Regions from separate parts of the Homo sapiens genome. Here regions 1, 2, 4, 5, 6 and 7 are each linked to region 3. Evidence: fine-mapped expression QTL. A gene starts in region 3. Each other region holds a variant in brackets. All regions are shown on one strand. Distances are from middle to middle.

Evidence for each region. PIP is the estimated chance that this variant, and not a neighbour inherited with it, causes the effect.
Region 1: its variant is fine-mapped to the expression of ERMP1 in lung (TOPMed, PIP 0.97).
Region 2: its variant is fine-mapped to the expression of ERMP1 in esophagus mucosa (GTEx, PIP 0.97).
Region 4: its variant is fine-mapped to the expression of ERMP1 in atrial appendage (GTEx, PIP 0.99).
Region 5: its variant is fine-mapped to the expression of ERMP1 in esophagus mucosa (GTEx, PIP above 0.99).
Region 6: its variant is fine-mapped to the expression of ERMP1 in whole blood (TOPMed, PIP above 0.99).
Region 7: its variant is fine-mapped to the expression of ERMP1 in whole blood (TOPMed, PIP above 0.99).

Annotation. Positions count from the first base shown.
Region 1 is chr9:5,733,919-5,737,918 of GRCh38, reverse strand. The region is part of intron 7 of RIC1 (RIC1 partner of RAB6A GEF complex); the gene reads right to left. Among named protein-coding and RNA genes, the nearest start is that of ERMP1, 97 kb to the left of the region's middle. The variant A/G (reference allele first, on the strand shown) is at 2,006.
Region 2 is chr9:5,926,149-5,930,148 of GRCh38, reverse strand. It overlaps BRD10 (bromodomain containing 10), which reads left to right. Exons shown (of 8, transcript NM_001017969.3): 6 at 990-1,105. Among named protein-coding and RNA genes, the nearest start is that of MLANA, 37 kb to the right of the region's middle. The variant T/G (reference allele first, on the strand shown) is at 1,715.
Region 3 is chr9:5,831,432-5,835,431 of GRCh38, reverse strand. It overlaps ERMP1 (endoplasmic reticulum metallopeptidase 1), which reads left to right and starts at 2,315. Exons shown (of 15, transcript NM_024896.3): 1 at 2,315-2,742. The coding sequence starts at 2,405. RefSeq lists silencers at 2,229-2,448, 2,529-2,748.
Region 4 is chr9:5,782,461-5,786,460 of GRCh38, reverse strand. ERMP1 (endoplasmic reticulum metallopeptidase 1) reads left to right here. Exons shown (of 15, transcript NM_024896.3): 15 at 1-1,889. Among named protein-coding and RNA genes, the nearest start is that of ERMP1, 49 kb to the left of the region's middle. The variant C/AC (reference allele first, on the strand shown) is at 1,750.
Region 5 is chr9:5,859,015-5,863,014 of GRCh38, reverse strand. It overlaps a transcript of ERMP1 not described here. Among named protein-coding and RNA genes, the nearest start is that of ERMP1, 28 kb to the right of the region's middle. The variant A/CA (reference allele first, on the strand shown) is at 2,381.
Region 6 is chr9:5,802,712-5,806,711 of GRCh38, reverse strand. ERMP1 (endoplasmic reticulum metallopeptidase 1) reads left to right here. Exons shown (of 15, transcript NM_024896.3): 9 at 927-1,101; 10 at 1,495-1,685. Among named protein-coding and RNA genes, the nearest start is that of ERMP1, 28 kb to the left of the region's middle. The variant G/A (reference allele first, on the strand shown) is at 2,050.
Region 7 is chr9:5,746,175-5,750,174 of GRCh38, reverse strand. It overlaps RIC1 (RIC1 partner of RAB6A GEF complex), which reads right to left. Exons shown (of 26, transcript NM_020829.4): 12 at 2,670-2,873. Among named protein-coding and RNA genes, the nearest start is that of ERMP1, 85 kb to the left of the region's middle. The variant C/T (reference allele first, on the strand shown) is at 2,372.

The DNA.
Region 1 (4,000 bases), 98 kb after region 3:
TGAAGACCTTTAAGATGATCCACTTCCACTTAATCAATAGTAAGTACATTATTTCTTCCTTATAATTTTCTTAATAATCTTTTCTCTTACTTTATTGTAAGAATACAATATATAATATTAATATATATAAAATAAAAAGTATGTGTTAATTGACTATATTGTCAGTAAGGTTTCCAGTCAACAGTATGCTATTAGTAGTTAAAAGTCTTGGGCGAGTCAAAAGTTATATGTAAATTTTTCAACTGTGTTGGGGGGTTGGTACCTCTAACCCCTGGGCTGTTCAACGGTCAACAGTATATACGTTTAAGATATAAAACATGTGTGTGTGTAAAAGCATAGTAAATATAAACATACATATTTGATATATATATAGTAGATATACAGTATTAATAGTAAATATATTTGTGGTAAAAATACAACAAAGAGTTAATGTATACAAATTTCAGATTAGTGATACTCTGGTGGAGAAGGGAGTATCAAAGAAGAGGGGTAAACAGGAGGCTTCATCAGCACTGGTGATGTATTATTTCTTATGTTGGATGGTAATTTATAAACATTTTATTTTTAAAATCTATATGCTTTTTTGTGTATATGGTATATATAATTACTTAATTTAAAACATCTTTACAAGGGTCAAATTTCTGAAGGGCCTGAAGCCAGAAGTAAAATCTCTATAATACGTCTAAGCCACATTTCAAAATTGAACTACGAGGATAACAGAAAAGTCTCATTTCTGCTCATGGTATATTCTCAGTTCAAAAATTTAATGCACATTCAGCATTTGAAAATGAGGCTCCTGTTTTAGATTACTTATGCAACATTTATAGTGAGAAAGAGAAACAAATGTTCTTAAAGACACTTTTTAATATAAGAATGCTTTTGCACATAATAGGATGACACTGGTTTATGACTACCAGATTGTTTTTTTTTTTTTTGGTGGTAGGAGAAATCAGATGGTTTCTTCACAGCAGCTTTGATCCATTCCCATCCAGGTCCTACCTCTTCTCAAGGATTAGAACTGGGACTAACTAAAAGACCTGCAATAGTAGCCTCCTTAAAGTTGTCCCACAGCTTACTGATACTCTGTTTTTGTTTTCTTTTTTTTCTGTGTTCCATTTTGGATAATTTCTGTTTTTCAAGTTCATTAATCTTCTCTTCTGCAATGTCTAATCTGTTGTTAGTTCCATACAGTATGTTTTTCATCTCAGACATCATAGTTTTCACCTCTAGAAGTTTAATTTCAGTCTTTTTCTAATATCTTCCATGTCTCAGTTTAATATTCAAGAGAGACCCTCTACAGCTCTCTGAAGTTCTCTCTTTGTGCCACCTCTTTGGTGTCTATATTATGAACTCTAGCTGCCTTGGTTTTCCCAGATTCTCTGATTTCCATGTGCTTATCTCAGCTCAGGATGTATCTCCCCAATCCTGTGCTGCAGCCTACAAACACTCAAAATAATAAAAACTAAGGGCAGTTACAGAGAGATAATTTTGTTTCTCATCTTTCAGAAATCACTGTCCCTTGTTACCTTATGTTTGTGTTCTGAATTCAAAACAGCTCTTTCATATTTTTGTCCGTTTTCTTGGCTGTATCAGGTGGGAGGGAAAATGTCATCTGTCATTCAATCATACCCAGAAGCCAAATATCTGAAAAAGATTTCTTTCCAGACTACCTGCCCAAATAGATCAACTCTTGCTGAGAGACAGCACTAAGTGGGTAGCAGGTGTTTGTTTTTGCTTTGCATCTGACAACTGTCAACTGCTAACCCTGGGTTGCTGAGCTCTAAAATGTTAGTGAGGAGTCCATGTTTTAAATATAAGAAGTAGGTGCTAAGTTACTACTTATAAAAGTCTGACAATCTTTTAGGTATTCTATAGTGCTTGTATTCTTTAAACTACTTTTCCTTCCATTTCTCACCAGCCCAATGTAACAGAAAAATATATTTTCATTAAAAAGACAGGACTTACTAACTCCAAAGCAAATCTCTATAAGAGAGATATGACTATT[A/G]TCACCATAAGTGATCAAATTTAGTGTCATTAATACTGAAACAACTTGACATTATTACTAAATGATACCATAGGAAATATATATCATCACCCATGACAAAATGTGTAACCAGAATCTAGTAATACCTTTAAATATTTAGGTTAACAGGAAGGTTGTTAAAATACTGATCTGCTGCAAACTGGCATCCTAAAAGGAAGCTGGCTTCTTACACAACTCTAAGGACACCAGCTATCACCTAGTGTTCAAGGTAATTAGTCCTGATAAGTGTTGGCAGATCTGGACTAGCAGACACTGGTTTGTTATGTCAACAGCTAGAATCACAAAACTTTAACCCTAACCCATGGGCATGCTAGAAGAGAACTTGTAGTCTCGTAGCTGATGAAAACTGAGGTGACTGAAAAGCTATAGGCCAAGAGTCTACCTACATTATCCTGGGAAGGGCTAGTACTTCCCAATCATGTAGCTTATAAGCCCATAGCCTAGGGAGGAGTACTTCTTCTGGATTCTAACACCCACCCTTGTGCTGGCCCCAAATGCAGTAAATGGAACTGCACACTTGCCACTGCTTCTGTCTCTGTGTATTTTCTCTAAATACTTTTCCATGCCTGATGTGTGGGCTTTCTAGTCACTTGACTGTATTGCTCAACAAGAACTAGCTTCCAGGTTAGTCACGACAGGTGTCAGATAAACAAGGTAAATGCCATCATGAGGAAACAATAAGGCAAATCTAGGATGCAGGATATTCTATAAAGAATCGACTCAGACTCAAAAAAAGTCAATGTCATGAAAATAAGTGGCATAAGGACTATTGTAGTTAAAAGGTAACTAAAGAGAAATAATAACCAAATATTATTAATGAATCTTGATCGATTCTGTTTGGAACAAAGGAGCTATAGAAGAAATTTAGCTGGTGGCAACTGGGTTAATTTGCATATAAATTGGGTATTAGATCCTATTAGGGATTTATCATTAATTATCTCATGTGATAAAGATATTCCAATTATACAAGAGAATGTCTCCTTTTTTAGAAACCAAGAAATAAGGCAAAAGTATGTCAACAGCAAAGTGGATAAATTATGCTATATTCAGACAATGGAACGTTATTTATAAACCAATTTAAAAAATGATTACAACTACTGGTAAATGACATGGATGAATCTCACAATGTTGACCAGTTACTAAGTGAGTCAAGGAGGGAATAAGAGTTGTGACTAGGAAGTAGCAGAGGCAGTTTGTGACTGGAGACCAGTAATGTTCTATTTACTGATCCAGTTGTGAAGAGATGGGTGTTTCTACTACAACGTTAAAACTATGAATATCTGGATTATGTACTACTTTGTATGCATATTTTTGTTTCACAATGTGAAATAAAAAGGGTATTATAAACTTTATGCCAGTAAGTTTGAAGGTGTATAAGAAAGAAACCAATTCCTGGAAAAAATGCAACTTGCCAAAATGACATAGGAAGAGATACAAAATCTGAATCTTCTTAAATCTATTTTTAAAACTGGGCCGGGCCCAGTGGCTCACACCTGTAATCACAGCACTTTGGGAGGCCGAGGTGGATGGATCACGAGGTCAGGAGTTTGAGACCAGACTGACCAACACAGTGAAACTCCGTTCTACTAAAAATACAAAAATTAGCCGGGCATGGTGGTGCATGCCTGCAATCCGAGCTACTCAGGATGCTAAGACAGGAGAATCACTTGAACCCAGGAGGCAGAGGTTGCGGTGAGCCAAGATCACGCTCTTGCACTCTAGCCAGGGCGACAGAGCGAGACTGTCTCAAAAAATAAAATAAAATAAAATAAATATATATATATATTTAAAATATATATTATATATATTTATAATATTTAAATATATATATCTAAAATATATACATTATATATATGTATATTTTTAAAAACTGAATTGAATCAGTAGTCCAAAAAAATCCACAATAAGAAAATTCTAGGTCTAGATGGCTTCTCATTGGCAAATTCTACCAAACAT
Region 2 (4,000 bases), 95 kb before region 3:
TATCTCAAAGCCATTACAAAAAAAAAACCCAACATGATTATGTAACAGTAGGTGATGGTAATAATAAGTATATACTGTGGCTTAGCAGCTATAAATTTATTGTTCCTATGTTATTCAAATAATTTTATATATACAGGTGAGGTGTATCTTCTAGAGGTTTCTATAGCCTGTGTCAGATTGAATTCATGTGATGTACTTTTTAAGAGGTAGTGATGTGGTTCTAAGAGCTTGGACTTCAGAATCAGGCAGATACGGGTTTAAGTTATAGGACCTTAAGCAAGTCATTTAATCTCTATGAGCCTTATTTTCATCATTTGTAAAGTGAACATAACAATGCACACATCTCAGAAGGCTTTTTGTAAATGCTAGAGCTCTCTCTAGATATATATATATGTGAAATACCTAGGTTAAAACTTAGCAAATTGAGAGGACATCAGTAATTATTAACTCTTAGTATAGCATTAGGGTATTGAAAACAGTAACTGCTTGGTTGCTTTTCTGGGCTAGAAACATTGTAAAATAAAATAATTGTAAAATTTCCTAGGAAGTTTGTTAAAAAGACTGCTTTTAGACATGATAACAAACCTACCTTTTCTCCCTTTTCCCCAGTCTTTGGGAAAGTTACAGTAACTTTACTGAAATGACCCATGTCATACTTACTTAATGAATTTATATAAATGTTTGTGTTTTTACATATATTTAACAAATGATTTATTAAAACATTTACAATTGATGCAATTTTAAAACATTTTTAAAATTTTTATCTTCCAGTTGGATGAAACAGGTTTCAGATTTCTCTGGTAGAATTGAGAATTGTTACATATATTGAATAAAATTTATTACAGGATATTTTCCCCCTTTCTGCAAGCTTCTGAAGAAGAAATACGTTTTTATGGAGTATTGGTGTTTTTGTATTTTACTCAGAAAATAAGTTTTGACATTTACTTTTAGAATAAATCTAAGGGATTTACTTTAAACATTATTTTTAGGGAAAATGGTATCATCGGAGGCAAGCTGTAAAAGAATTACATAGTACATTGATACGTCTTTTAAATGAATTGCTGCCATGGGAACCAAAGTTAATGAAGGCTTTCCAAAGAAACAGGTAATTTTAATGTTATAATCTGTTTTACTTATTTTATGGTCCTTAATTTACGATTTTTGGATGATGTCCTGGAATCATTTAGTAGTTTTCCAGTCATTTGTAATTCGGCAGATATTTTTGACTGCCCACTGTGTGCAAGGCTCTTTCTAAGCCCTGAGAAAATATTGTTGACTAAACAAAGTCTCCACTCTGTGACTTACATTCTCATGGAAAAAAACACACTCAAATGTCAGATGGCAAAAAAAAGTGCTGTGAAGAAAAATAAAGCAAGGTAAGGGGGTTAAGAAATGGCTGATTTGGGCAGGGTGAAGGTTACTCTTTGATCAGGTGTCAGGGAAAGCTTCCCTGATGAGTTGGTGTTTGAACAGAGACCTTAAAGAAATGAGGAAGGGAGCTCTGTGGATTTCTGAGGGGAAAGCAGAGGGAATAGAAGGTACTAAAGCCCTAGAGTTGATAGCATGTTTGGCGTTTAGTGGAGATGCAAAGAGGCAAGTGTAACCAGAGCAGAGCGAGTGAAGAGAAATGTGGTAACAGGCAAGAGTCAGAGAGGTAAGGAGGAAGGAAGCCAGATCATGTAGATCTTTAAGAATTGGAGTTTTTACACTGAGT[T/G]AGGTGAGAAGCCATTGAAGGGTTTTAAGCAGGGAAGGGACATGATTTGATTTATGTTTTAAAGCAATCACTCTGTTGGGTGGAGATAAATGTAATAGGACAAAGATGAAAGCAGGGAAACCAGTATACTATAGCAGTAATCCAGGAGAAAAATGGTAGAGGCTTGGACTAGGATAGTAGCAGTGCAGATACCAAGGAGTGGCTGGATTCTGGATATACCTTGAAAGTAGGATTGGTAGAATTTGCTTAAGGATTGGATATGTGGAGTATGAGAGAAAGTGAGGAATGAAAAAGATGATACCCACTATTTTTGGTCTAAACAACTGGAATAATGGAATTGCCATTAACTGAGATAGGGGAAACTCAAGGAGTAGCAAATTTGAGAGGTAGAGGGGATTGAAGAGTTGGATTTGAACATGTTAACTTTGATATGCTCTTTAGACATATAATTGGTGTTATTGAATAAGCAGTTCAGTATAGGAGTCTGAGTTCAAGGGAGTCTGGAGGTACAAATTTGGGAGCTGTCAGCATCTTGATTGTATTTAAAGACATAAGGCTGGTAGAAATCACTTAGTATATGAGCATAGATAGAGAAGAAAAGAAAAGCGAGCATTAGACCTTCCAGCATGTAGAAGTGGCCAAGATGAGTAGGACTCAGTAGAAGAGACTTTGAAGGAGTGCTCAGTAAAACAGGAAGATAGTCAAGGAAGAGAAGTGTTTTGGAAACCAGGTAAAGAAAATGTTTCATAAAGGAGGGCTGCTCATGATGGGTTGAGGAAATGAGAAATAAGAATTTATTATTTAATTTGGCAACATGAGGATCATATTAATGACCTTGGTGAGCTGTGGTAGTAGAAGAGTGGATAAAAGTCTTAGAAGTCTATTCAGGAGAATTAGGGGAGAGAAATGGAAGAGTCCTCTTTCATGGAGTTTTGCTATAAGGTGGAATAGAGAAATGGAGCAGTATCTGGAAGGAAAAGAGGTTAAGAGAGTGTGTTTTGTTGTTGTCGTTTGTGTGATAGAATAACATGTTTGTGTACTGATGGAAATGATTTAGTAGACAAAAAATGGATTCAGGTAAAGGAAGGGACATTTGGTAGAGTGTTATCCTTGATTAGGTAAGAGGATGCATTTAAATGGAGGTGTTAGCTTAGGTAGGGAGATGGAGAATAGGAATATACATTAAGGTGAGTTGCAGATGAGGTGTGAGCATGTGAAAGTTCTCTTCTGATTGCCTCCATTTTTCTTGAAATAAGAAGTAAAGCCATTAACTGAGACCGAGAAGGTTACTGAGAGTGAGAAGGGAGGAGAACTTTATACTATCCCCACATAGATATTTTTTCATTCCAATCTTATAGATTGAAAGGGAAATTCATTTTATGATTATCATTTGGTAACCCATTCTAATACCTTTCACAGCCCTCATGTGCTTCCATAAAACCCTTAACAATAATTGAAAACCTACATAAACTGAAAGCAATTATTAACTAACATTTGTTGAATATTTATGTGCCACACGTACTGAGAGGTAAGTACTATTATTATTCTCATTTGTAATAAGTAAACTGATGCTTAGAAAATTAAGGAATTTTAATGTTTTGGAAATTAAGGAATTTTAATGTTTTAAAAATTAAAAGCCACTTTGGGAGGCCGAGGCAGGCAGATCACGAGGTCAGGAGATCAAGACCATCCTGGCTAACATGATGAAACCCCGTCTCTACTAAAAACACAAAAAATTAGCCGGGTGTGGTGGCGGGCACCTGTAGTCCCAGCTACTCAGGAGGCTGAAGCAGGAGAATGGCATGAACCCAGGAGGCGGAGCTTGCAGTGAGCTGTGATCGCGCCACTGCACTCTGGCCTGGGCAACAGAGTGAGACTCCGTCTCAAAAAAAATAAATAAATAAAAAATTTAAAGCCTGGGCAATATGGTGCAACTGTGTCTGTACAAAAAATACAAACATTAGCCAGGTATGGTGGTGCATGCCTGTGGTCCCAGCTACTCAGGAGGCTGAGGTGGGTGCATTGCTTGATCCTGGGAGGTGGAGGTTACAGTGAGCCAAGATTGTGCCACTTGTACTCCAGCCTGGCGACAAAGCGAGACCCTGTCTCAAAAAACTAAGTTAAAATTGAAAGTCTTACAACTGGTAAGTGACAGAGGTAGGACTTAAAATCTAATGTGCACAAATAAGAATGTATAGCAAAAATAAATTGGAGAACATGGCCAGGCGCAGTGATTCACGCCTGTAATCCCAGCACTTTAGGAGGCCAAGGTGGGCAGATCACGAG
Region 3 (4,000 bases):
GTCTCAATTTCCCTGCTTTATTTTTCTTTATGGCACTTAACTCTCTGACATTTTATACACACACACACATGCGCGCGCGCGTTCATTGTCTCTTTGTTAGAATGTAAGCTCTCTGAAGGTAGAAACATTGATTTGTTCTTCTCTGTTTCTCCACCTTAATCAGTATCTGACACAAGTAGATATCCAACAACTAGTAGCTAAAAATATTCAAACGTGAATACCGTAGACTATACAAGTATAGAGAAAAACTGCCTTTCAGGAACTCAGCTGTAACTTAACTCCTACCACCTAGAGTTCTATGATTATCATGATAGGAAAGTAGCTTTTAATCTAATCTACAAAGGATTTCATGAGAAGGAAAATTCTGAAAAATAGTTTTTAATGAGAATCTTATGTGAGGATCTTTCACACACACACACACACACACACACACACACACACACACACACACACATCTATCTATCCATCTATCATCTGTCTATCTATCTAATCCTCACTGAAGCCCCTTAAGGCAGGTATCATCTGCATTACCACAGATAAATACACGTGGACTCTGTGAGATTGTAACTTGAATAATGCCATGTGTACTAAAGGTACCAGATCCAGGAACTCAGATCTACCCGTCCCCAACAGCCAGGCAGCCAGGCATTTCCCTATTATGGTACCATGGGATATTGTCAGACATACACACACACACACACACACACACACACACACACACACACACATATATACATACATATAGTTATGACCATGGGCTAGGCTCTTATCCAGAGCTAAGCACTATGGATACAGTGATGATTAAATAAGATAGACACTGTCTTTAGTCTCATAGTGCTTACAGACTGAAAGGGATCTTGTAGAGCTAAAATTATGCTTGCTGCCACAAAAGTGGTATGTTTTCATTTTTTCATTCACTCAAGAAATATCTATTGACTACATACTATGTGTCATGCTTTGTGTTAAGAGCAAGGAATAAAATGGTGAGTAAAACCAGACCTGATTCCTGCCTTCGTGGGGCTTACAGTCTAATGAGGAAGTTATGAAATAGTCACATGCAAACATGGTGCTGTGAGATCCTACAAATAGGGGAAGCAAGCTTAATTAAATTAGGAGATTCTTGCTTGAGGAAGTACCACTTAATCTGAGATTTAAAGGATAACTAGGAGTTAAAAAGACAATGAGGAGAGAGAAGAACACTCCAGGTAATTCAAACAGCATGTGAGAAGATCCTATTGTAGAAGGAAAGATGCGTGCAGGAAGTCTTTGAAAGAGGCCAGTGTGGCTGGAGAGCTGGAAATAAGAAGCATCCTGGTGTCAGAGGAGCCTGAGAGGTGGGCAAGAGCAGGACTATAGGGCATTGTATGAAATCTGACATATGTGCTAAGTCAAAATCCGGCAGTGTGCTCTCCCAGTTGGTCTCTAGGTTAATGCTCATGCTAATGTAGCAACTCCAAGCTAGGGACAAAAAACCTTGGAGCAGAGAGGCTCATGGGTACCGGCAAGCTGGAAGAAGACTAGATAATCACTAGGATCTGCACTGAAACCAAGGCTCTGCTGCTTAACCGCCCCAGAGAGTCGTCAAGTGAAGAATGGCCTTTCTGAACCTTCACTTGCAGAGTGCTAATGTAGTAGTGGAACAGAATGCTGTTTTGGGAGCCCATGAAATTAGATTTACATTCTTCATCTGTTATCTCTACGTTTCTCAGGTTATAAAATGGGAACAAAGATATTTCCTTTTAAGTATTGTTAAAGATAATTAAATAAGATGATGTATTAAAGGACTTGACCTAGCGCTTAGCTCATAGCAGGTATTCAATAAATAATAGCCATTATTTTTCTTTATCTGTTAAATGGAGACAGTAATAGCACAGATTAAGTTGCTGAGTTATGAAGATCTGATTAGATTATGCATGTGAAAGCAATAGGCCGGGCCTCCTCTGCGTAATCTTATTTCTAATTTTAAGAGCCAGGAACCCACTTTTTTGGAGCCTGATGTTCTAATATTCCTTCCTTACGAAAGCCAGGTCATTGCTTTTTTCATCTGCCTGATGCACTGTAAGAGCCTTGTGTGTTCTTTCAAAAGCGATCTCTCATTTTTCTCGTTTTGGGTTTTTAGGTGTCTTTACATTTGGCAATCTCCGTCCTACAGAGGGCTGGAAAAGCCCTGCGGGAGACGGCATATCCACCACCCGCTGCTGGGTCGGCCCTGCAGCTGTGTGCACCCGAGAACTGCCAAAGAAGCTGGGTCTTGGCGCGGCGGGACGGGCCAATCAGAAGAAGTTTGGCCCTCTGCAGTTTCCGTCCGCTCACTAGGAGGCGCTGCGGCAGCGACGGCGGCGTCGGCGGCGGCCGGGGCTGTCGCGGGTTGGGGCGGTTGGGCTGGCAGCTGAGGCTCGTGGCCATGGAGTGGGGTTCTGAGTCGGCTGCTGTGAGGCGGCACCGCGTCGGAGTAGAGCGTCGAGAGGGAGCGGCGGCCGCGCCACCGCCGGAGAGGGAGGCCCGAGCGCAGGAGCCTCTGGTGGATGGGTGCAGCGGCGGCGGGAGGACGCGGAAGAGGAGCCCCGGGGGTAGCGGCGGCGCGAGCAGGGGCGCGGGGACCGGGCTGTCTGAGGTGCGCGCCGCGCTGGGGCTCGCGCTCTACCTGATCGCGCTGCGGACGCTGGTGCAGCTCTCGCTGCAGCAGCTCGTGCTACGCGGGGCCGCTGGACACCGCGGGGAGTTCGACGCGCTCCAAGCCAGGTACCGGCCGCTCCCTCCTGGCACGGCCCGCGCGTCCGTTTGCGGCTCCTGCGCAGGCTCCGGGGCACCGCACCTGTGTGCACCCGCCCCTGCCGGACCGCTGGGACTCGCTGACCCCTCCCAGGCTGCACGTGGGGTGGGGTGACCTTGCTTGTCCTTCTTCTGGGGTCTGAATTGCCGGGACTTGGGGCTTGCCTGTCCCCGGTTAAGCTCGTGGTGCAGATTGGGGTTGCCAGGTAGATTGAACCTGCTTTCCACTGTCTGCCCTTCGTGCAGATGGTTGGTTGTGAGTCGTCTCCCCATATTCTGGAACAGCTTCCCCTTTTTACCTTGCTTAGCCCTTCTGCTTTCCAGATGGAAATTTGTGTACCTAGACTGTTGTATAAATTCGCTTTGGGGGCGGGGAGTTTTGGAAGGCGCTAGTGCACTGTTCTAACTTTCTGAGGGTTACAGCCCCCACATCTGAAGGCTATAGAAACTCTTTCTGGAACACCGCCCAGTCAAAATTTGGTATGCAGTCTGATAAATTCTCAGATCCCTGCAGTTTATCTTTAGGCCCCTTGGATTAGTGACTGTGTAAGGTTTGACTTTTTTTTTTTTTTTTAAGACCTTTAAGAATGCTAGGAAAGGTGATTAAGTCAAAGATATTGTAACCCAGGTGTGTCAAAGCTCATGAAGTGTTAAGCTGGCGTCAAGTTTTCAACAGCTACTGTGTTCTAAAAAGTTTTTGCTAGAATGCAAAGTGTTGCAAGCTTATTAAGGACTTTCTGAAACGTCTCCCACCCCCACTTCCAGCTTTCCCCACTTGGAATGCAGTGAAAAGACAAAAACAGTTTTGTTTTCATTAGGGGTACAGTTGGTTTTGGCCTGAATTGAAGTTATTAGACCTTGGGTGTATGCTAGGAGGGCTAGGTCCATCAAAAGTTTCCCCCGCCCGCCTTATTTAACCTCTTGACTTGATTATTTTTGCTCATTGGTTTCTGCTACTTAAAGTCATTAACCCAGAATCTGTAACGTTCAGGAGTATGCACAGTGAAGTTATATTCTATCCTGCTTAGTCTTTAGCTTTTTTTGTTTGTTTTCTGAGACAGGGCCTGGCTCTGTCGCCCAGGCTGGAGTGCAGTGGCTCCATCTCGGGTCTGTAGCCTCCACCTCCCAGGTTCAAGCAGTCCTCCCACCTCAGCCTCTTGAGTAGCTGGGACTACAGGCGGATAGTAGTCTACATCTGGCTAGTTTTTGTAGTTTTAGAAGAGATGGG
Region 4 (4,000 bases), 49 kb after region 3:
TGTTTTCCTCTGAAACATGTCTGTTACCCCTCTCCATCTTACCAAGTTGAAAAGGGGAATATTTGGCCACATACCCCTCTGGTTTTCGTAGGTTCTTTTGGTTCAGAATATTGTTTGTGCCAGTACATGACCTTAACTTCCTTCCTCAGAGCACTGAGCTGCCATCTGGGCTATTCTGGGGTAGAAGGAAGGCTGGGAGTGGTGGGAATTTTATAAATATTTATTCTCTTTTCTTTGTTTCATAGGAGTCTTGTGTTATACAAGGTTAGTCCTTCATGGTATAATCTTACTGATGCACTGGGCCTATCTTTTTGTTTTCCAGCCAGTTGAATAGATTAGTTTTTCTCAGTAACTTACTATCCAGCAGACTGGCTTTCCTGAGACTTGAGGTTGTGGCTTATACTGGAATGAGACCACTGTACGTGTAGGTGGTTCAGATCCTGCGTAATGGCAGCATGAGGACTTAAAAGGTGGTTTTCATTTTGAAGATGGCTATGTAGCTTGTAAGGTGTATCACAGCAGTACCTCTCATGGCTTTTTGGTTCCAGCAGTGAGGGCATTGGTGAGATCAATGGTAAACTGTGCAAGCTTTCTTTTTATCATTAGGAAATGTGAAACGTTGGACAAATTTTGAGTTTTAACAAGGACAAAAAGTTGAAAGAAAAGGCACAGTTAACAAAAAAGGGTGGCTAGATTTATCTTGGGTGATGGAGGAAATGAGAGAGGAATGCTCTTGAAAGGTGGTCTGTGGATCTGTCTGAATAGAAAGAGCACAGTAAGTATGCATTGCCGGAGAAAACGTCCTTGAAGCTGCTTGTCTCATGTGTATGATGTGCTTTTTAAATCATGCCCCTCGTTGCCTGCCTAATCTGTGACTCCCTAAAAACTAACTGGGCCCATGTAGATGGGGCTGCAACCAGAGCTGAATAACATGTTAGGCTCACACATGCATCAGCACTGCACACTGGAATCATTGCTCTTCCTGGACTTTGTAGAAATCAGTCTCAAGTGCTTCAAGAGTCTGGCTCCTGCTACTTTTATCTGTCAGGTAGCACATAAGGTTTGCAGGGTTTATATTTTGTATAGAATCACAGTTGTGGAGAAAAAGTAATAATTTCTCAATGAATTTTAAAAATGGGCCTATTTTCTATCCCCGTGGTTCATCTGATATAATTAGTGTTCCCTGTGAATTCCCCCCCTCTATGGGAAGGATGCCTTTACTCTTTATCAGTAATAAATTATGACTGTTTTCATATTGCCTTAGGGTTATTTCCCTGTGTAAACCATTGTCTTTTGTTTTGGTTTTCTTTAGCATTATGAAGCTTTGGTATTGTACAAGGTCAGTAGTAAGATGCTCACTAGTCTCAGGGCTTGTGTAATATTCTGGGAGGTCATTTAAATGCCAGAAATGGTCAAGCAATTATACACAGTATTTATGACTCTGTTAAGCATACCGTTTGTCTGTCACATTAGTAGATTCTGAGATTAAAAAAAATTTTTAAAGAGTGATCATTTAAATAATTTCTAAAAGGGTCTTTTCAAGCTCTAACAAAGTCACTAACAAATGCATTATTTTCTACAGAATTAGATGTTAGTAGTACAGTACTGCATATTCAGGGAAAAAGTGTGAGGAATTGATTTCAAAATAGTTCGTTCTTGTGTTTGACCTAAGAATGATTGTCGCATGAAGTGTTTGTTTTTACAGTTTAGCATATATAAACAAACATGATAGGATTCCTTAAGATGTTA[C/AC]CACCCAGGGGGCCACAAGCCAGCCTGCTGTCTCAGGAAGCTGTAGAAGGAGTGTTTGTCAATTTCTTGTCACTGGTTTGCTGACTTACTGAGGATTAATTGTTGCCTTACAATGTTACTGAAATAAACTGTTTAATATACTGGTTGGTATCTTTTTAACTGAAAAACAGATCTGTGTTCTTCTGTATCCCCATATTTTCAAGGGTTATTCCATGTCCACAGAGCCTTTTAATTGCTGTTAAAAGACCTAGATGGCTCATGTGAGCAAAGAACTCAACATGGAAATGTTTACTTCAGTTAGAATCCTTTATCTTAGAATGAAATGGTACTTCTGAATTTCACAGAAATTATTAGGTAAATGTTGAGCTTCACCTATGTAGGAGTTTTAAATCATCCCCATTAGCAAAAAAATAGCAAAGGGTAAAGGGCGTTCTTTTATTTGGGAGTAAGGGTAGGAGGGAGGGAAGAAGTTGCCTTTCAGCCAGAGTGACTCATTGCTTATTCTAATCTCCACAGAAGGAAAGGGCACCACCACTCACCAAAATAGAGCATGAACTTTGAGTTCAGAGATCTCTGTGCAAGTTATTTAAACTTTGAGTGAATTCTCTCAGAACAGTTCAATGCAAGGTGAAGCAGCTGAACAACTTCTAACCTAATACTCCTCTTCTTCTTTTAGGGCCAATAAAGTCAAGATGCAGTTATGGCTATTTACATTTGTTTTTAGCCAAGATGCAGTTACGACTCTTTTTAAATTTTTTAAAATTATACTTTAAGTTCTGGGGTACATGTGTGGAATGTACAGGTTTGTTACATATGTATACATGTGCCATGGCAGTTTGCTGCACCCATCAACCTGTCATCTACATTAGGTATTTCTCCTAATGCTGTCCCTCCCCTAGCCCCCCACCCTCTGACAGGCTCTGGTGTGTGATGTTCCCCTCCCTGTGTCCATGTGTTCTCATTGTTCAACTCCCACTTATGAGTGAGAACATGCGGTGTTTGGCTTTCTGTTCTTGTGTTAGTTTGCTGAGAATGATGGCTTCCAGCTTCATCCATGTCCCTGCAAAGGACAGGAACTCAACCATTTTTAGGGCTGCATAGTATTCCATGGTGCATACGTGCCACATTTTCTTTATCCAGTCTATCATTGATGATGGGCATTTGGGTTGGTTCTGAGTCTTTGCTATCGTGAACAGTGCTGCAGTAAACATACATGTGCATGTGTCTTTATAGTGGAATGATTTATAGTCCTTTGGGTATATATCCAGTAATGGGATGGCTGGGTCAAATGATATTTCTAGTTCTAGATCCTTGAGGAATCGTCACACTGTCTTCCACAATGGTTGGACTAATTTACACTCCCACCAACAATGTAAAAGAGTTCCTATTTCTCCACATCCTCTTTAGCATCTGTTGTTTCCTGACTTTTTAATGATCGCCGTTCTAACTGGCGTGACATGGTATCTCATTGTAGTTTTGATTTGCATTTCTCTGACCAGTGGTGATGAGCTTATTTTTCATATGTTTGTTGGCTGCATAAATGTCTTCTTTTGAGAAGTGTCTGTTCATACCCTTTGCCCACTTTTTGATGTTTTTTTTTTTTCTTGTAAGTTTAAGTTCTTTGTAGATTCTGGTATTAGCCCTTTGTCAGATGGATAGATTGCAAAAATTTTCTCCCATTCTGTAGGTTGCCCGTTCACTCTGATGTTAGTTTCTTTTGCTGTGCGGAAGCTCTTTAATTAGATCCCATTTGTCTATTTTGGCTTCTGTTGCCATTGCTTTTGGTGTTTTAGTCATGAAGTCTTTGCCCATGCCTGTGTCCTGAATGGTATTGCCTAGGTTTTCTTCTAGGGTTTTTATGTCTTACGTTTAAGTCTTTAATCCATCTTGAGTTAATTTTTGTATAAGGTGTAAGGAAGGGATCCAGTGTCAGCTTTCTGCACATGGCTAGCTAGTTTTCCCAACACCATTTATTAAATAGGGAATCCCTTCCCCATTCTTTGTTTTTGTCAGGTTTGTCAAAGATCAGATGGTTGTAGATGTGTGGTATTATTTCTGAGGTCTCTGTTCTGTTTCACTGGTCTATATATCTTGTTTTGGTACCAGTACCATGCTGTTTTTGTTACTGTGGCCTTGTAGTATAGTTTGAAGTCAGTAGCGTGATGTCTCCAGCACTGTTCTTTTTGCTTAGGATTGTCTTGGCTATGTGGGCTCTTTTTTGGTTCCATATGAACTTTAAAGTAGTTATTCA
Region 5 (4,000 bases), 28 kb before region 3:
ACTTTCTCTGAATTTTTGCACTACCACAAACAGATGTTTTAGTCTCTTCCTCTTGCACATAAATCTCTGTCTGCTCCATTAACACTGCCTCATTTAAGGGAGACCATTGGATTCTGGCTTTCTTATTGCATTTTATTGGATTGTCACACAGTCTTGGTTGGGGCTCCTGGGACAAGTCCATTTATAGGACCTGAGAACCAACCCATGGCCCCAACAAGTAGACACTCCTTTGGAATGAGAACTCACCTTGGTGATCAGTTGTGGGCCTTAAGGATTAAGCCGGTTAATCAAGGATGACCCTTGATGATAATACAAGGGTTTTGGTTTAGGCACCAATGTTATGTATAAAATGAAGAAATGTGATTTTTAGCCTGACACAGTGGCTCATGCCTGTAATCCCAGCATGTTAAGAGGCTTAGGCAAAAGGACAGCCTGAGGCCAGGACTTTAAGACCAGCCTTGGCAACACAGAGACTCCATCTCTACAAAAAATAAAAAGTACAAAAAATTAAAAAATTAGCTGGGCATGGTGGCACACACTTGTAGTCCTAGCTACTTGGGAGGCTGAGGTGAGAGGATCTCTTGAATCCAGGAGTTCGAGGCTGCAATAAGCTATGATTGCACCACTGCACTCCAGTGTGGATGACAGAGTGAGACTCTGTCTCTAAAATAAATAAATAAGTAGGTCAGGCATGGTGGCTCATGTCTGTAATCCCAGCACTTTGAGAGGCTGAGGCAGGAGGATCACCTGAGGCCAGGAGTTCAAGACCAGCCTGGACAACATAGGGGGATCCCATCTCTACAAAAATAATTTAAAAATTAACCAGGCATGGTGGCACACACCTGTGGTCCCAGCTACTTGGGAGGCTGAGGTGGGAGGATCACTTGGGCCCAGGAGGTAGAGGCCGCAGTGAGCCATGATTGTGTCACTGCGCTCCAGCTGGGGTGACAGAAGGAGACCCTGTCTCAATAAATAAATACATACATACATACATACTTTTTTTAAAAAAAAAATTAAAATGTGATTTTTTAAAAAACTTTAACTTTTAAAGGACTAGTGGTTGGATTGTGTCTAGAGGGACAGCCCCTGATTATCTGACCACTTTTGGTAACAGGAGGGACTACACTCAACTGGCCCCATGAAAAGAGAAGGGCCAGGAGCCATCTCCCCAGGGTGGCCTGGAGAAACAGAATGAGCAGTCCCCCTCCCCTGATGTTGCTGTTGCACCTGCTGAGATCCTTTGACCTTGGACTATTCTTTTTCTGGGCAGACCAAAAAAAAAAAAAAAAAAAAAAAACCCTTCCTCTCTTCTCTGGGGTCAACACTAGAGCTCTGCCTGCACTGGGAAGAGAGTGGAGCCCTAGGGCCCCTTACTGGCTTAGTACTTTCCATCTCCGTCTCTTGCCAGGTTTCCAGAGGCCCTGTCTTGTGCATCTAAGTCTACAGTTAACTGTCCACTTCTTAGTGAGAAAGGAATCTGCTTTTAGTGCCATCTGTAAAAGAAGACAAATAGGTCTTTAATCAAGATTGACACACATGGCTCCTGCTTTCTCCTTGTTAAAGGTGGTACTGAATACCTCAATAAAATAGTAAAAAAAAACCCAGCAAGTATGATTTTGAAAACTCAACCCTGTACCTTGAGTAGAAAGAGTGTAGAATATATTTCCTTAAATCTTACTTTTTTTTCACCCAAATTCAGCACAGCTAAGGCCAATGATGACATCCTGGGATAATACTTTGAGTTATTAACTGATTTTTTTTCCCTCTCCAGTACTTTACTTTTTCTTAGCTTTTACACACACACACACACACACACACACACACACACACACACACACACACACCCCCTAAGCCATTGTGGGTTCACTGCCTCTCAGAAATGCAGAAACATTTTGACAGAGAGCATAGCTTCTTACTAGATCCCTGTCTCAGTCCATTTTGTGTGGCTATAACAGAATACCACAGACTGGGAAATTACAATGAACAGAAATGTATGGGCTCATAGTACTGGAGGCTGGAACTCCAATATCAAGGTGCTGGCATCTGGTGAGGGCCTTCTTGCTACATTATCACATGACAGAAGGAGAGAGAGTGAGAGAGGGTGGAGGTGGGACAGTGAAATGACCCTTTTATAGGGAACCAGCCACCATAGTAATCCATTATCATGATTACTGGGAGACTGAGGCAGGAAGATCACTTGAGACCAGGAGTTTGAGACCAGCCTGGGCAACACAGGGAGACTGTCTCTACAGTTTTTTTTTAATGAGGCCAGATATGGTTGCTTATGCCTGTAATCCCAGCACTTTGGGATGCTGAGGCAGGAGGATTGCTTGAGGCCAGGAGTTCGAGGCCAGCCTGGGCAACAGAGTGAGACCCCCCG[A/CA]TCTCTACAAAAAAAAAAAAAATTGTGGACTGAAGTTGATAAAATTGTCCTTGCAACTTTCATGGCCACTAGAGAGAGAACATGTAGTATGTCACTTGCCATTGGTTACGTTATGAGCAATTGAGCCCATACGTTATGGCTCTGAGCTTCATTCATTTACTCACTTATCCATCCATATTTATATTAATGTACAGCTGGCCAGACACTGGAGACATAAAGATGAATGGAACAGAGCTCCTGCCCTCACTGTGCTTGCTGGCAGTAAACTTCATCCCTAAAATACTGACAGTGCATTTATCCCAGTTATAAATATAAATGCTTCCTTCCTTCTTTTTTTTTTTTTTGGAAACAGGGTCTGGCTGCAGACAGTGGCACAATTACAGCTTACTGCAACCTCTATTTCCTGGGCTCAAGCAATCCTCCTGACTCAGCCTCCCAAGTAGCTGGGACTACAGGTATGCACTACCACACCTGGCTAATTAAAACTTTTTTTTTTTTTTGGTAGAGACAAGGTCTCACTATACTGCCCCGGCTGGTCTCAAACTGGGCTCAAGCAATCCTCCAGTCTTAGCCTCTCAAAGTGCTGAAATTATAGACATAAGCCACTGTGCCTGACCAATGCTTTCTTAATAAACTTAAGTTGAGCTTATTTAGCATGTAAGAATTCTTTATTAAGATATTAAAAATTCTGGTACTAAGACCTGTGTAATACAGGGGTGTGGTTTTTTCAAAGTATATCTAAGGCTGTGTTTAAATTTAGTAAATCTAAATACTTAGTAATGATACACTTGAATGTAGCTATGTAGCCTGGCACAGTGCCTGAGGAATAGCAGTCACTCAGTAAATTATAGTACGTCTCTGTAGTAAGCATCAACTATGTGCCAGGCCTTACTTGTAAGGGAATTAACATAATTCCTCATTAAGGTGAGAAACAACTTAAGGCTTTGAAATAGTTATGGGTAAGTTGGGATAGCAAATACCAAGCACATGTGCCTCTATTTTCCTTTTTCTCACCCATGACAGGCATTGTCAACTGATCACAGGTCTTTCTCATTCCCTGAACTTCGCCTCGGAACTTCTCTCCGTAAAAGATGTTGCCCACTTGCCATTTCTAGGCCAGGAGGAAGAGATTGGAACTCTGGAGAGTCTTTCTTGTTTTGTCTCAGGGTAAGGCTGCATGATTTTCAGATTAGTTATTAAATTCCTCAGAGCCTGTGTTTACTTATCTGAAACTATGGATCATAACTTTACCTAATTATCCTATATGGTTCTTGTAAGGTTTAAATGTTATGAGGGTTGGGGAAGTGCTTTGAAAGGTTAAAAGAACAAGTCACTCCCAAGAGAGTAGCAAGAGCTCCCTTTGCCAAAGTGTCTTTGCCAAGGAGAGTATTCCATTAAGTCCTGTTTAGAACAGAGAAGATCCCGTTTCAGAAGGACTTCCTGCTAAATAATTAGGAAAAGGAAAAGAAAAGAGGAAGCAAATGGAAAAGGAACACAGAGAGAGGACATGACTTGGAGTCAGAGGCATTAGAGTCAAGTCTAAATTCACCTCTTGCTAGCCGTGATGTTTGGAATAGGTTACTAAGCTACCATGCATTACATGGAGCAAACAATAGTCAC
Region 6 (4,000 bases), 29 kb after region 3:
TCCCAGTGCTTTGGGAGGCTGAGGTGGGAAGACTGCTTGAGGCCAGGTGTTTGAGACCAGGCTGAGCAACATGGCAAGACCCTGTCTCTGCCAAAAAAAAAATGTTTTTTTTAAACTTTGCTGGGTGTAGTGGTGTGTGCCTATAGTCCCAGTTACTTCAGGAGGCTGAGGCAGAAGAATCACTTGAGCCCAGGAGGCTGAGACTGCAGTGGGCCGAGATCGCACCACTGGACTCCGGCCTAGGCGACAGAGCGAGAACCTGTCTCAAAAAAAAAAAAAAAAAGTTTATATGGCAACTTTATTTTGAAGAGTGCAAGGTGCTACATAGGAACCCTTGGACTTTAAATCTCAAAAACTGTAAGATCAAATTTTATAATAGGAAATCATGAGGAATACAAGAAGGGGGCAAAGGTGCAGTACAAGACCAACTGGAGATAGAAAAAACTCATGAAAATAAGCCAAACTCCAGATTGCTTTAAAGGTGCTGCAGTTTTCCAGATGTGGGTTATTGGTGGTGCTGCAGCAGTTCCTAACGTTCCTTCACAGGTCATTTCTCTAGTTTGCTTGAAACAGTGTTTGGAATTGGCATGAACTGAAAAGCTTACAGAGATGATTGTTTTTTAGGAGAGTCCTTTCTTCTATTTTGGAAAATTTCTACTTTTAGCCTAGTAGAAGAAAAGCATAGAGTACATGGAGCATTTATACTCTATATTGTTAAAATGCCCTTTCTTGTGCTACATTTGAATTTACTACTTCATGATGGGGGAGGTAGCTTTGTTAGTGTTTACTTTAAATCAGTTTAAAGAGCAGACTGTGTTTAAAACAAAATGTAGCTTTCCTGAGTGATGGAAAGTGTGTTACTATAATAAAAGCTCTTTATGCATGACCCCTGAATGAGACTACTTGTATATTTTTCTTTCTTTCAGAATGCCAGTGCCCAGTATCTGGGAGAAGTATTTTTTGACATTTCGCTGTTTGTCCATTGCTGTTTTCTTGTTACCCTCACTTACCAAGGACTTTGCTCGGCGTTTATTAGTGCTGTCTGGGTAGCATTCCCATTGCTCACAAAGCTCTGTGTGCATAAGGACTTCAAGCAGCATGGTAGGGTATTTTTGATTTTGATATACATGGGAGAATACCTTAAAATACTTAAGGCTTTCAGGGACTCTTTCTTTTTTGGTTTTATTGGGTAGGCTTTCTAAATTGTTAGTTTTTAAAAGTTTTCATACCACACAAATTATCTTATGCCTTATACTCCATCCCTTTCTCATGTTTGTGAACACATACTAATATATTACTTGTGTATTTTGCTTTATTCTTATTTGTATTTTATCCTGAGTGAAAGATCCTACTCCAAGATAACATACACCCTTAAGGGCAAGAGTCACATCTAACCTAATTTCTGTTAGGGTACCAAGGCACACCAGTACTATAAAAATTTATATCTCACTGGAGGATTTCATAGATGTGTGCTTTTTTTCTCTTTTTCCCTAGGTGCCCAAGGAAAATTTATTGCTTTTTACCTTTTGGGGATGTTTATTCCTTATCTTTATGCATTGTACCTCATCTGGGCAGTATTTGAGATGTTTACCCCTATCCTCGGGAGAAGTGGTTCTGAAATCCCACCTGATGTTGTGCTGGCATCCATTTTGGCTGGCTGTACAATGATTCTCTCGTCCTATTTTGTAAGAGAAAATAAGTTTTTTTCTTTTTCTTCATTTTTTATATGAATATGAATTTAGCCATACTAGATTCTGTGAAATAGTGTTACGTGTACTTTATTGAGAAAATCTGAAGCAGAAGAAATGGTGAATGAATGGCCATGCATCTTGTAAATTTGGTATCGTAAGAAACTGTAGTATAGAGTTTGTTGTTGCTGTTTAAAAGTTTTTTGCCTCCCTATCCTTCCAAATTCTCTGATTTACCTCTTTTCAAATAGCCTGTCAGATACCTGAGTGTGAATTTGTAGAGCGTTTACCAAGTATTAATTGTTAGAGATTGCCTGGTGGTGAATGATCCTAATAGTATATTTTGAAATTACTAATTAGA[G/A]GCACATGTTAATAGATACATGGGTGGTTTTATTAGTGCTTTTAGAGCTAGTGAAGGAAGACTAAATCTGATGAGGCTTTTTTCATTATCATTCCACTACCTTGTTGCTACCACATGAAAGCTTGTTAATTGAGTCTGTTATGACACCCAAACGTGCCTTCATTTACCAAATAATGAAATGATCACAGGCCTTGTCAGTCCTCATTTTGCCGTATCAGTGTCCTGCCCTAGTAAGGAGAGTCCTGTGTTTGCCATCCCTTTTTTTCTTCCCTTGGGATTCCCAGAGGGAAGAAAAGACAGTGATGCAGAGTTTAAGACCAGACCCCCCTTGAGCAGAGTAAGCCCCAAGCAAGGTTTTGCTTTGGTTTGATGTCCACCTCCACGATCCAAGATGGGCCCCTCCAGAGAATGCAGGTCTCTTTTGGTGGGAATTCCTAAGAATAAAAAGTAATTATTGAACACTCAGAGGTGCACCTTGAAATTTGAGGATAGGGAACCAAACAGGAAAAGGAGCTATGATTTTATTATAGTTCTTTTCTTCATGGAGATGATAGTGAGCCTTTTCATACTGATATAGTAAAGGGCATTCGTTACCCCTTTACTTTGTGGAAGTTAGGTTCTAAAGACAGCAGGTAAGGAAAACACTACACACATGGTCAGCATCATCCGTGGAAGTCCCTTATAGCCAGTAAAGCTCTATATATGTGACTTTGTGTATATAGTCCTGTAGAGTAATTCTTATGCATATTATTGTTTGAGGTTGGTTGTACTAGTCTTAAAAGAGATCTGAGCCTTCCAACCATTTTACTTATAGGATAATTATTAAGGATAATATAAGGATAAGGATAATCCTTATTGGTATTCATAGGGCTGTATGAAAAGTTCTAAAATGTTCTTTGCTGCCTGTAGGGTTTGCTGCTTTTGAGTTTAATAGTAACCCTTATATCATCTGTATTTTTGATAGGTTTGCTGTTGTAAGGATTGAAGGAGACAGTGGACTTTTGTTATCTATAGATTAGGTTCTAATCTAATCTGAAGTCAACTAGTTATGAACTGAATGCCCCCACACCCCCGTTTATTTGTTAAATTATAGTCATGAATGGGAGCTATGGATGTCCATAAAAGATGACTCAGATAGGGGACATTTAAATTCTGTTCCACTGATAATATGAAAGGGGGCAAAATGAACCCTGGAGATGTTCATTGTGGAAATGGAAAATGTCCCCAAAGCATGGAAATCTTGGAAACCAGAAGAAAGAGGATTAAAGTGTCTTATCATCTAAATTATATTTTATTGGGAAAGCTTTTGGAGAGAAGACTGCCTCTTGGAATACTTTAGAAAGCTCACTTATTTTTCATTATAATGTGAAATAGCCCTGCCGCACTTTGATGCCATGAGTTATCACTCTTTTAATTATTTTCTTACTTATGTGTAGCAGTGTTAATGATAGTGGCTTATTAATAGAGTAAGACTGTTTTCTTTGGGTAATGGAGAATTGAACCACAATGCATATTTCAGACAGCTTTCCCTTCAGTCCTTGGGGATTTATTAAATACATCTGCTAGAAAGCAATTAAAGTCTTGTCAAGCAATCACGGTTTTTTGTTTGTTTGTTTGTTTGTTTGTTTTTGAGACAGAGTCTCGCTCTGTCACTCAGGCTGGAGTGCAGTGGTGTAATCTCGGCTCCCTGCAACCACCGCCTCCTGGGTTCAAGCAATTCTCGTGCCTCGGCCTTCCTGAAATATTGCATCCTGTGTCACTCTAGGTTCTGAGATGGGTGCAAAATAAAATGAAGAGAAGCATGAAAAGGGACTCTGAAATGTCCATTGTGTGCTGATAACTGAGCTGTTTCTGAGTCTTCTCCTCCTGACCCCACTTGTATCAGCAGTCCCCATTTCCCCTGTCATTCAATCAGTATACGTATAACCATGAAGGTCCAGCAGAGAATAAC
Region 7 (4,000 bases), 85 kb after region 3:
CCCATATGTCAACAAATGACTTCAAAAGTTTTAAAACTTATAGGTAAGAAAAAACTTTTTAAAAAGCACCTTGGCTGGTGCTTGCTGGTGCTTGCTTTGGCTGGGTGCGGTGGCTCACGCCTGTAATCCCAGTACTTTGGGAGGCTGAGGCAGGTGGATCACAAGGTCAGGAGTTTGAGACCAGCCTGGCCAACATGGTGAAACCCCGTCTCTACTAAAAATACAAAAATTAGCCGGGCATGGTGGCAGGTGCCTGTAATCCCAGCTACTTGGGAGGCTGAGACAGCAGAATCGCTTGAACCCTGGAGGTGGAGGTTGCAGTGAGCTGAGATCACGCCACTGCACTCCAGCCTGGGCAACAAAGAACAAAATTCAATCTCAAAAAAAAAAAAAAAAAAAAAAAAAAAAAAGCACCGCCTTTACTGCCAGTTACCAATCCTGCTTCTGACAAGTATGTATTTGTTTTGTTTTAGTTAAAGAAAAATCATAAGTAACATAGAATCTTCCAATCTGGAAGCTAAGGAGTATAAGGTAGCAGGTTTAAGCAAACAAACAAAAAGCTAGTACTCTAAATGAGAAACAGAACAAGCAGCAGAATTAGTTGGAGTTCATCTAAGCTATACAAGAAGCATACATACAACGAATAAATCACGCAAACAAAATCAACTTTGACAGAGGATGTGGTCACTTATCTTAGAAAAAAGGATACTATTGTGGGGCAAATTAAACCAGGCAACTATGTTTCTTCAGGGAGTCATCATAAATGGCTAAAAAGCCTAGAACGTAAAAGTTTAGCATTATATAGACACTGTATACTGCCCTATACACCGCCACCATAACTGCACTGAATCATGTAGCTGGAGTGCCAGCGAAATACAGGGCAACTCCAAGTACAAACTGCCAAATAGGCGAATTCTAAGTTTTAGCTCAAGGTCAGTGGTGTATTATGTGATTTAATGCTCAGTACCTCGGTTTTAAAATACATTAGATTTTTACTTTAACGTAGAGTGATGATAAAGATAAGTCTGCCACTACTCTGCTGGGTGAACTGGACAAGTCATATAACTTCTCTGATCCTCAGTTTCCTCATGTATCAAATCCAGTTGGACTTTATGATCTCTTAGGTCCTTCCAGCTTGAAAAATTCTATGAGCCCATTTTCATTGTTTCAGCAGTACAAAACAATCAATGTGGCATTATTTATGTTATTTTTAAGGAAACTGATAAACTAGGTAAACTCAAGTTTTAAAAGTTCATCTGTCTAAATATCTTTAGCTATCTAAAGAACAGAATAACAGTGGAATCTTGCTAGTACCCAAAGTCCTAAAATCAGTGTTAAAATGTTTCTCTTATATGGGGTACTTCATAGATGCTTAAGAATCACAGAATCACTGAGTTTTTGAGCTGGAAGGAAATTCAATTTTTGTTATTGCCTGATCGATTTTTTAGTTCCAGACCTACCTTCTTTGATCCTCTGCTCTACTTGGCTCTCTGGTAACACAGACCTGGCTAGGCAGAACTGGCATTGATGCTAGGTCAGTGTAGAATGAATAGTTCAAAGTATGGGGAAATGAAAATAGCAGAGAAATGGCTATAGGAGAGAAGGGAGCAGTGGAAAATTTTAGTCAAGGAAGTAGCTAGTGCAGTTTTATTTAAAAATTGTTACTAATTATAAAATGGTATGTACATTGTTTGATTCTATGAATTTATTAATGTAAGTTAAGTTCATTTTCTTTTAGTGTATACCAGATGTCAATGTAGGAGATAATCCTTCAACCTTTCACATGACCATTTTTTTGTCTCTCATTATCTTCACTCAAAGTCAACTGAAAATAACATGGGAGCTGAAGTAGGCTAGTAGGGTAAACATATAGAGAGTCAAAGTAAGGCAAAGAATTATGGAAACAGAAACTGACTAAAAGAAACTAAGAGTGGGCTTTGATGTACCTAAAATATTTTGCTATCAAAAAGGGAAAGAAAACAGTCGGAAGACTGAAATTATGTATGCAAGTTTCTTTTAAGAAACTTCAACTTACTGGTTTCCCCAAAATAATTTTACTTGGTATCAAAATTGAGAATTAATTTCCATGTTAAATGTCAGTTTATCAGAATTACTGTGAGACACTGTTAATTTAAAAGTGATATCAGAATGAATAAATAATTTGGAATAAGATTAGCTAATAAAAGTATTAACAATAAAGCTCTCTACTGATCACAAGTCTGCAATTTGGGTCCAAAGTCACATGATTAACCTCAACGTGGCCCCTTAAGACTGTAAGGTCAGCTGTACAGAGTACTAGCTGATGTTGCCACTTTCCATGAGATTATTACACTTTGTTTTGCCTGTGCAAATCCGTAGAGCTAAATTTATA[C/T]AAAAAAAGAGGCTGAAAGTAAAATAAATAGTTCTCAATGAGAAGGCAAAACATAAACTTCTAGTTCTTGACATTATTAATAGACTTGAAACAGGTGGGGATACACTCTACGCCAAGTGGAAAGAAAGGAGGGAGAAGACTAGAGGACAAGAACACAGAAAAGCAGAAGAGGGACATGACAAAATGGTTAAAAGGATTCTCAGTTGCCTGAAGTTAACAGATGAAATATTTAATAATCTGTTCCAGGTGATATCCTATCAAAGAATAAGTCTCTAGTAATCAGTAACTAAAGATTTACCTGTACAACATGCCAATGCCGATGTCCAAGTAAAGTGCTTAATCCCTGAGACTCTAAACCTCCATCTGCAAATGGGCTCTTTTCTCGACTGGGCTTATGCTCAGAGTGTGTTGAAGAACTCCTGGGATTCTGGGTTTGTGAAGCCTCTCCACAGTTCAAGTACAAGCGATCCTCACCCTGAAGCAACACCTGCTCTTGGTTACTCTAAATGAGGGAAAGAGGAACAAAAGGGCAAAGGAGGAAAACAAATAAAAACAACTCAATATTACGCAGGCAAAAATAACACATCGATTTAGTTTTATTATAGGAAATGTACATGTATCTCGATGTTGATTTTCTTCACAGAGGACAAAGACTACACAATAATCTCATGCACTGTTATAATTAGAAAGAATAGTGCTCTTAGTGACTATGAGATTTCAGCTAGAAAGCCAGTGTTCTCAAAGGTGAGTAGACTCATTAACTATTGAAATCAGACAAAGTAGCACCCTACCCTTGTCATTTTTCCATTTTAGTCCAAATGCTGGCTTGACATAAAACTCAAGGGTGCTTTTAAATTATTATTTGGGATGGGGAAGGGGAGGGAGAAATGCTCTCTTCTTTTCTGGGGATCCTTAGTCTTCAAGTGGAATAATGGATCTGAAATTCAGGCTATTTTCACATTTTTTATGGATGTTCGTAAATTTTAATTAGAAATTTGTTGTACCAAATATCCATTAAAAAGCCATTGATGGTAGGTATTAAGATACACATTTCTAACATGTAACATATACCATTACTGTATATTAGCGATATATAATAATATTAGTATACACTATTTCAGATAGAAATACAAGAGGCAGTGTTTGGGGCGGTGTTTCTAAAAGCAAGTCCTCAGACATACTTTCTTTAAGCTATTTCTTAAAAATTCACAGTTAAATAAGCATGGGGAACACTGTTTTTAATATACCACCTCCTGGATTTTCATGATGCACAATGGCATATTTAAGCCTCTGGAGCCCTACAATCAATCTCTACAATTTTGTTTTACCTTTATTTGACACTTATATGGAAACAAAACTTTTAAAAAATCCTGTGGAACTGCTACTAATATCTCTCATAAGTAGTGCCTGGAGGAACACACTTTGGGAAATGCTATTCAGATAAAGACTAAATTACTCAAATTATTTAAATAAATATATAAACATTGCTTTCCGTCAAATTGCTTATGACCCTTTTAAAAAAATAAGACCAAAGAAACACAACCCGTTGAGAAATAAAATTTTGGTATAAATTTAATATAAATTAAAAAGAAACACAAGAATCATAGAAAAGAAGATAATATGCCAATT